3 separate regions of the Homo sapiens genome follow, and regions 1 and 2 are each linked to region 3. The links come from fine-mapping of genetic effects on gene expression. A gene starts in region 3. Each other region holds a variant in brackets. All regions are shown on one strand. Distances are from middle to middle. Region 1 has its middle 39 kb from the start of LINC03080. Region 2 overlaps MEF2A (myocyte enhancer factor 2A). Region 3 holds the start of MEF2A (myocyte enhancer factor 2A).

The links.
Region 1: its variant is fine-mapped to the expression of MEF2A in monocytes (TOPMed, PIP above 0.99).
Region 2: its variant is fine-mapped to the expression of MEF2A in whole blood (TOPMed, PIP above 0.99).

Annotation. Positions count from the first base shown.
Region 1 is chr15:99,473,257-99,476,015 of GRCh38, forward strand. No RefSeq gene overlaps it. Among named protein-coding and RNA genes, the nearest start is that of LINC03080, 39 kb to the left of the region's middle. RefSeq lists enhancers at 1,068-1,744, 1,745-2,420 and a silencer at 1,848-2,142. The variant T/G (reference allele first, on the strand shown) is at 1,176.
Region 2 is chr15:99,613,835-99,616,593 of GRCh38, forward strand. All of the region lies in intron 2 of MEF2A (myocyte enhancer factor 2A), which reads left to right. Among named protein-coding and RNA genes, the nearest start is that of MEF2A, 49 kb to the left of the region's middle. RefSeq lists an enhancer at 1,320-1,369. The variant G/A (reference allele first, on the strand shown) is at 1,256.
Region 3 is chr15:99,564,471-99,567,229 of GRCh38, forward strand. MEF2A (myocyte enhancer factor 2A) reads left to right here and starts at 1,514. Exons shown (of 12, transcript NM_001319206.4): 1 at 1,514-1,634. RefSeq lists silencers at 685-1,124, 1,965-2,014 and enhancers at 836-1,811, 1,812-2,759.

The DNA.
Region 1 (2,759 bases), 91 kb before region 3:
CGCCTCCCAGGTTCAAGAAATTCTCTGCCTCAGCCTTCTGAGCAGCTGGGATTACAGGCACCCACCACCACACCCAGCTAATTTTTGTGTTTTTCATAGCGACGGGGTTTCACCCTCTTGGCCAGGCTGGTCTTGAACTCCTGACCTCGTGATCCACCGGCCTCGGCCTCCCAAAGTGCTGGGATTACAGGTGTGATCACCAGGCCACCGCGCCCGGCCAACTCTTCTCCTTTCTGATAAGTCCTGGGGTGGCCTTGGGGCAGATGGTCCCCAGCGGCTGCGCGCACCAGGTTTGCAGATCGAGGCACCAGCACTGTGCATGCTGTGACCAGAGGCCTGAGGACCACCCTGCATTCGGTGTGTGTAACCTCTAAGCAAAGACTTTACCTTTCATTGGGAGCCCCATGCAAATCACAAGCCTCCAGAGGCACTTATTAAGTGCCCGTTTCTTCTTTATCTACTTAGATGCTAGACCAAAGAGCTACATTCTAAAATTTCACTGACTGATTTATATCCTGCTTGTTCCCAAAAAGGACGACAATAAAACCACAGGTACAGTATGGCCAGGAACATTTAACCAAGACAAAGGAGGGGAACAAAGGCAGAGAATTATGCCTAGCCTCAGCCTTTCAGGAAAGTAAAATCCAAGATTTCATTCTCCAGGTGTCTTTAAACTTCCCCAAGATGTAAGGGCGACTTCCTTTTCTTTTTGTAAATCTCCTCCAGCCGCATTGGAAAGGCAGCCCGCGCTTTGTGATAAGCGTGGGAGGCCTGTTCCCACTAAGAGGAATTATTCTGTTGCAGGATGGACTGCTGCGGCCATGCAGGCTGAGGCTGGCTTTTTTTGCCCAGTCACTTGACAGCCTTCAGCCCAGCAGCCCTACCCTCTTGGCCGCAGCCACAGAAAGCCTGGGCAGGATTGTGTTTCTCAGCTGACTCTGCACACTGGTGACAGATTGTCCAAGCTGTGCCCTGGCCCGGGTTTGCAGAGCTTCCCCATTTCCCTGTGGATACAAAGGTGAGTGACCAGAGTGAGCCCCCATCGCAGGCCATCGTGCCTGGCACCCTGGGACGCCCAGATGAGTGAGGAACGCTGTGCCCTTGGAGGAGGCAGACACAGCCCCAAATAGTGTCAGGAAGTGAAAGGGGAAGGGAAGGGGGTGAAAAGTGCTGAG[T/G]GTGGGCTTTTCGGGGAGCTCCTCTGGTCAGCAGGGTTCCTCCAGGAGCCCAGGGCACAGGGACACCCAGTGGATGGGGCCACTGGGCCAGCATTGCCTACGCAGGAGAAAGGCAGGAGGGGGCCTTGTTTAAGCTCTGTCCCCTTCTATGGCTCTCTCTCAACCTTAAAAACAGGAGACACAAAACCTTCCCTTTGTTTCTACCATTGGAGCATAACGAAATCTGTGATGAGAGCTGGGGCTCAAGCCATTCCGCGGCTGTGACCTCTTGTTTCATGGCCGTTGCCCGAAGGCGCAGAACGTGGGGCTTGAAATTTTGTTCTGCTGTCTGCTTCTCGGCTTAGTTTCTTTGGACTTCTCTGAGTCTTGTTTCTCCCTGCTTAGAAAAAGGTGATAAACGATAGCCACTATCTAGGATATGGAAATTCAATAAACCTATGAATATACCGATAAAAGAATCACATATACGTACAGTATACGCATACACTACATTGACATATGCATGTGTGACTATACACACCACACCTTCTGCACGCCCCCCCCGCAGAGCCTGGAGTGCCCCTGGCCGTGGCTCCCTGGCCCGAGTGTGACTCAGATCCTTAGGGCAAGGACAGCTGCCCCTGTCCCCGGTGGGCCTGCCTCTCTCACCCCCACACTCTGACCCACTCCAGGCTGACAGCAGCTGGGGCCCCCTGGGATGGGCCAGAGCTCCGGCAGCTGCTCCTGGATGGGAACTTGGAGGCCTGACCATGGACGGAGTGCTCCCTGTGCGGGCCCCGGACCTGGAACGCCCACTTGTGAAACCCCAGCCTGCTGACCTTCGGGTCATGGCGCAAAGTGAAGCCTGCCTGTGACTTGGAGGCAGGAGGGCGACTGGAGTGGCGGGAAATGATGGCAGCCATCTGGCTGTGCTATTTACCCTGGCTGCGAAGCCACCCTCCTCCAGCTCTTCTTTTCCCTTCCCTTCAGCATCCTCGCCCCAAGCATACTGCCACGCCCACTGACAGCGATCAAATAATAACAGCAGCAGCGACATGTCCTGAGCTCCCACTGTGTGGGGTGTGCATTCTCCCCTTTCTTGTCACTCTCCCTGGGTCCCTCCTGCCTCCCTGGCTGCACCTCTTCAGTCTTCTGTGCTGGACCCCTCGTCTGCCCAGCCCTGGCCTAGCTCACTGACGGCCGTGTGGTTCTGGCCTGAACCAAACTCTGTCCTCTGCTTGGTTTTCACCCACCACTGGACGTGCTCTAGAGGCACAGGGCTGTGTTGACTGTGTAATGTCTAGAACCTAAGCGCCAATGGGGTGGCCTAGCCCTGGCACAGACGCGATACCCAGGAAATGAATGAGTGCATGAAGAAACAGAGGCTCAGAGAGGGCGAGTCACTTGTCCAAAGCCACAGAGCTGGAGAGTGGTGGAAGGAGGGTTCAGACCCCCTGTCCGGAGGTCCCCTTCCCTTGCCCCACCACCTCCACAAGGAGTGCCTCACCTCTACTGTCAATCACTCTCTACTTCCCCTCCCTCCCCACCCCAGATAGCATTACCTAGGGGCACCGAGGGGGTTCGCGGGCCCCACTGGCCCAACCT
Region 2 (2,759 bases), 49 kb after region 3:
TCTAGTTTCCCTTGTGCAGCCATACACAACTTAGTAGAAATTGTTTTAATATTCTACTACTGAAAAGTACCATAAACTCATGAAATTGGGGTTAGATGGCTCCTTGAAGGTTTTATCACATCAGTGGCATTTTTAACCACTATTTAAATAGTTCCGGTGGTGATAATGTACTGTTATGGAAAAAGACATGATATTAGGGCCAAAATTTCAACTCTGCCTCCTAGTGTGACTTTGGGTGAGTACTGATTGTTTTTACTCGCAGTTGCTTCATTTAGAAAGTGGAACAGATGCCATCTACCTCACAGGGTTATTGTTACTGTTACATGAGATAATATATATTAAGGTCTAACACAGCTACTGATAAATGTAGAAGATATTTAATAAATATTAAGTTACCTTCCCTTCTGCAGTTCAGTGAAGAATAACTTCTTTTTTTTTGGAGATGAGGTCTCACTATGTTGCTCAGGCTGGTCTTGAACTTCTGAGCTCAAGTGATCCCTCACCTCACCGTCCCAAAGTGCTGGGATCACAGGCGTGAGTCACCGCGCCAAGCCCAACAATAACTTATAACTCCAAAAAATTGGTTCTTAGAGAATGTCCAATAGCCTGGGATTGTGAAATCTCATACTTTGACTTTTGCTTTCATTTGTTAAGCAACTATGGTAGCAGCTGAGGTTATAGGAGTAAATACAACAGACTTGATCTTCTCCCTTGGTTACAGTTTGGTTGGGGGAAAAGAAATCAAACATTTAATTGTATAAGGAAGTAATTACAGTTGAGGTAAATGCCATAAGAGAGAAGTACAGTCTGTTAGGAAAGTGCATTAGAAATCCTAACATAGTTTGGATGTTAGGGAACATTTCCTTGAGGAAATAATGGTAATACTGAGACACAAAGGATGGGTAGGACTGTCAGTAAGGAGAAGGGCTTGGGATAAGAGCTACTGAGAGAGAGCAAGGTGGTAGTATGTATGAAAGCCCTGAAACAGAAAGGAGTTAGGAGCTTTCTAAGTACATAACAGCTTGTGTCAAGAAGCTTGCTGGGCAAGAGGAAGTGTGGCATGGAATGAGGAGTTCCATGAGTAGAGGAGTGACAGGATAAGGCAGAGCCTTACAGGCCATGTTAAAGGCTTGGGCTTTTAAGAACAGTGATAAGTGACATGATTATATTGGCACGTTAAAAGGTTGCTGTAATGAAAATGAGGAAATTGCACTGGAGGGAAATAAAAGTGCCTGCTGAGACCAGTTAGGGGGCT[G/A]TTGCAATGCTTAGGGTAAAGGTGAACAGTGGCTGGTACAGAAAAGGAACAGGCTTGGTGTGTTTGGTTTAAGAAAATGTTGGGTTTTGAGATACCTGTAGGGTATCTTAAGTTGAGTAGTTGAGAATGTGGTTGGATATAGCCAGTTAGGCTAGTGAGGTAGCTCTGGCTGAGGCCTTTGCAGTAGGCTGATAAGCTGAGTTTCTGGTATTTGTCTTTTATGCAGACTTAACAGCAACTTGAGTGCATGTGTTGTGAGTATTTTTATACTCATTATTTTACAGTTTTTAATATTAAGTAATGATTATCACTTAAGTAATGGGTATTGCATTATTTTACAGTTTTTAATATTAAGTAACGGTAATAATAATGGCCAACATTGAGCACATGTGCAGATTACTAGGCCAAATACTTCATATGTGTTATCTCTTAATCTTTACAAGTTTATGAGCTTTATTATTAGTCCAGTATTTTAAAGATTTGGCATCTGAAGCTTAGAGAAATTGAGTAACTTCTCAAGGCAACCCATGTAGTAAGAGGTGGAGCTGAGGTTTGAATGCAGGCGGGCATGCTGCAGACCCTGTCCTGTTAACCATGTTAACCACTACCGTATGCCACTTCTCTGTGAAATTTGAACCAACCAGACAAACCAAACAGAATGACTGAGGGACCATTTATTAGTGAACTTTTATGGAAGACCTGTGTATACTACACGTTGTACTATAGGTGATTTGATACAGTCTCTTATTTACATCAACATTCACATGGCCTGTGAAGTATGGTTTTTGCCTCATTTTAAAAATGAAGAAACTGTGGCTGAGCAAGTAAGTGACTTGGTCAAGATCACTAATAGCTATTTAGTGGAACTTGGATTCAAAATGGACTCTTCTGTGTTATACTACTTAAAAATAAAAACTGTGTTGACTTAAAAATAAGAAAATTTCGCTGGGGAACACAATTAGATTTAGTGGTTCCCATATATCAAGCCACAGTCAGACTAGTTCTTAAAAAAAAATTAGATCTCAATGTTTAAAATTATAGATTGAATTTAGAGAACAAACAGCTGAGAAAATTGAGATACTTAAAAATAAATAATAGGTATTTTACGTGTATACAAAGTAAAGACTTTATTAAAATTATTTTAGAAAAGATAAAATGAGAAAATATTTTCTAGGAAATGTGTATCCATTTTATAATATCTGCGAATAGGTTAGACAAAATTACAATATTGATGACTGGGTTTTTTTTGTCAATAGTTAATTGTTAGCATTTGTATAGGACTGCATCTTGATCTTGCTGTAATCACTCTGTCCTTTAAAATTTCTTCTGTTTCTTCCTTAGTTTTGAGAAGACAAATGGAAATTAAGTCAATGAGGTAACATATTATAATGCATCTTAAATATTGGCTTCTTTTAGCATCAGAGTTAAGACTCATCTTACCAGTACTTTCTACTGCCTACTAAAAATTAATAAGAGGCAATTAAGCATAGTATTAACAGTGTAG
Region 3 (2,759 bases):
CTTTGTAACTTCCCAGTTCCTCCACTCACAGCCTCTGCTCATCTGCTCACCCACCCCAACCACTTTGTTTTAAGTGCTGCGGGATTGAATTTCTCATCTTCAAATGCAAACAACCATTTGGCTTCGTGTCCATTACACAGGCACCTCTGGGGGCACATGCAGGCACTGTGGCCCCGAAAAACTCTTCAGAGGTGAGCGGCTTTCAGGATGAGAGGGCCAACAATGGCTCATCTCCTAAAGACCTCGATAAACATAATCAGTAGCCCCAGAAAACACAACAGCTGTCCCAAGCCTATCCCCTTTGCACCTATCTCAGAAAAGGCAACATGCAGAGTGGTCAGGAGTTCAAGTCCTCAGGGCCCTACTCTGAAGCTGTGACCCTGACAGGTCACTTTAGCGCTCAGCTTCCCTTTCCTCATCTGTAAAATGGGAATAGAAACTGAATCTGCTTCATGGGGCCTTGTAAGTATTACATAAGCTGTCATATGCAAAATGTCCATCACATAGTTCACCGCCCCAGGCATCCTAGAAACTATTAAGTCACGATAAGGAGGTTGCTACTGTCCTGGGACCTGGGGAGCTCGGCTGTCCAGTCCGAAAGGGCCTTCTCGCCCTCGAGACCCCTTCAAGTCCCTTTCTCTCCGGGCCCGGGTCCCAGAGTCCCCTTGTGCTTGCTCCTGAGGGTGACCTGCCCGTGCCCCGGGGCGAGCACAGGTGCGGCCCTGGCCACAATGCGGGCGTGGCGAGCCGACACCCGGGGAGGCCAAGGGCGCCTCGAGGGAGGGAGGGAGGAGGCTGACCCGGGCGTCCCGAAGGACCCGCCCGGCCCCGGACTCCGGGCGGCAGCCGGCCTCGCGCCCCGCCCCCGCCCCGGGAGCCCCGCCCAGTCCCGTCGCGCCGCGCCGCCCCACCGCCCGGGTTGGCTGCCCTGGAGGCCACGCGCGGCGATTTGCCACGCGCCGCGTCACCGGGCCGCTCCCGGCCTGGGCTCCCGGGGGCTGGTCAGGGAGGTGGCGGCGGCTGAGCGGCGGAGCGGGGGCGGCAGGGCGCGACGCCGCCGGGCCGCCCCGCCCTGGGAGGCGCCCGGGCCCTCATCAAGTGACCAGTATCCCTTCCAGGGGAACACGGTCCTTCAGAGGAAAGCGAGCTCCAACCCGCGGCCCCGGCGCCAAGCCGCCGTCATCTTCTTCCTGTGCCAGGTGATCGTCTCCTCACCCACCCGGAAAAACATAGTCCGCCCCCACGTCCTTGTGGAATAGCGCCCGCTTCCAAGCACCGTGACTCTCTTTGCCCTACCCTTGTCTTTCCCATTCCAATTACTCTAGAACCCACCGAGAGGATAATTCAGTCCTGAAAAGAAACTGATGGGGAGAAGCGAGGAAGGGAACCCAGGAGGGAGGGGAGGCAGGGCTGCGGAGGGACACCGAGGCGGCGGAGGTAGTGCGCACGCGCAGCACAGAACGAGTTCCGGTCTGGCCGAGGCTTGTCTCCTAAAAATAGCCCCGGTGTGGGGATCCGTGCGCGGATGTCCCGGCGAGTCCCGGGCTGAAAGAGGCGGCTCCGGGCGGCGCGAAGCGCTGGTGGCGGGCCCGGGCTGCGGCGTGTGCGCGCCCGCCAGCTGCTCCGGAGATACGGTGAGGGCCGCGGGCAGCGGGGCTCAGTCCGCGACGCCGGTAGTGCTGGAGGGGGGCGGCGTCTCGCTTAGGGGACCGAGTAGGGGTTGGGGTGGAGGTGCTGGGGCGGGGGACGGCGCGGCCGAGAGGGTCGCCCGGGGGGCTCCGGGGACCCCTGGACGAGGCCGTGTCCGGCTTGGAGGGGGCCAGGGTCGCGTTCGCGCATTGGCGGGGCGGGTAGGGTGCTGGGAGGCGGGTAGGGTGCTGGGAGGCGGCGAGGGGTGGTCGGGTCGGGGTCGGCGCTGAGGAGCTAGGCGCCCGGGGAGGTGGGGGCGGGGTGCCCTGAGGGCGGGCCGGTGGGGCTGGATGGGGCTCGGCTGGGCGGGCCGAGGGGAGCTCAGTCGCGCGGGCTGGTGGCGAGCAGCCTCCCCGGGCGCGCACCCCTTGGGGCCGGGGGGCGGTGGTGGACGTCGCCTCCTTGAAAGTTGAAGGAGTTCTCGGGAGACCCCGGAGAAGGTGCGCTCTGAGGGCCCTTTCCTTCCCCTTTTCCCTCCAAGCCCGGGGGTCTCCCCGAAGGGATTAGCCCCAAGTGCGGGGGGCCTTCTGCCCTGTTGGACTTGAAGAAGTTCCCCCACTTCTGCTTTGGGAGAAGATTGGTCTAACGGGGTGGAACGCTTAGGTACGAATTCTGTGAGTGTGTAGATGTCAGTGGCGGGGTCGGTGTTTGGGGCGGACACCTGCGGTTGCGGACGCCCGATCGTGCGGGGAGACGTCGCGGGGACAGAGGGGCTGCACAGGGAACCGCTGGCTGAACCCCTGCCATCCGGCTAGATCCCAGCTCGCAGAAAATATTTTTTGTGTTAGAAACTTTGCTTTTTGGCTCGATTTCATGCCTTTGAGCTGTGAGGGTTAAAGTAAGTGAGATAGTGCAAACAAGTTTGGAAAAGGTGAGCAATCCTGAATAAGAAAACAGTTTTTCTTTAAAAGTGTAACTATAGAATTGTTGCTCACATCCGAAATAGATTCCGGAGCTGTGAAGCGAGCCTCCTGTTATGGTCCAGCAGGGAACCGTGTGTAGCTTGAATATAACATAGTGTTAACCTGCGTTTTAGTTTACAGTGAGATTGGGATTCCAATAAATGCCCT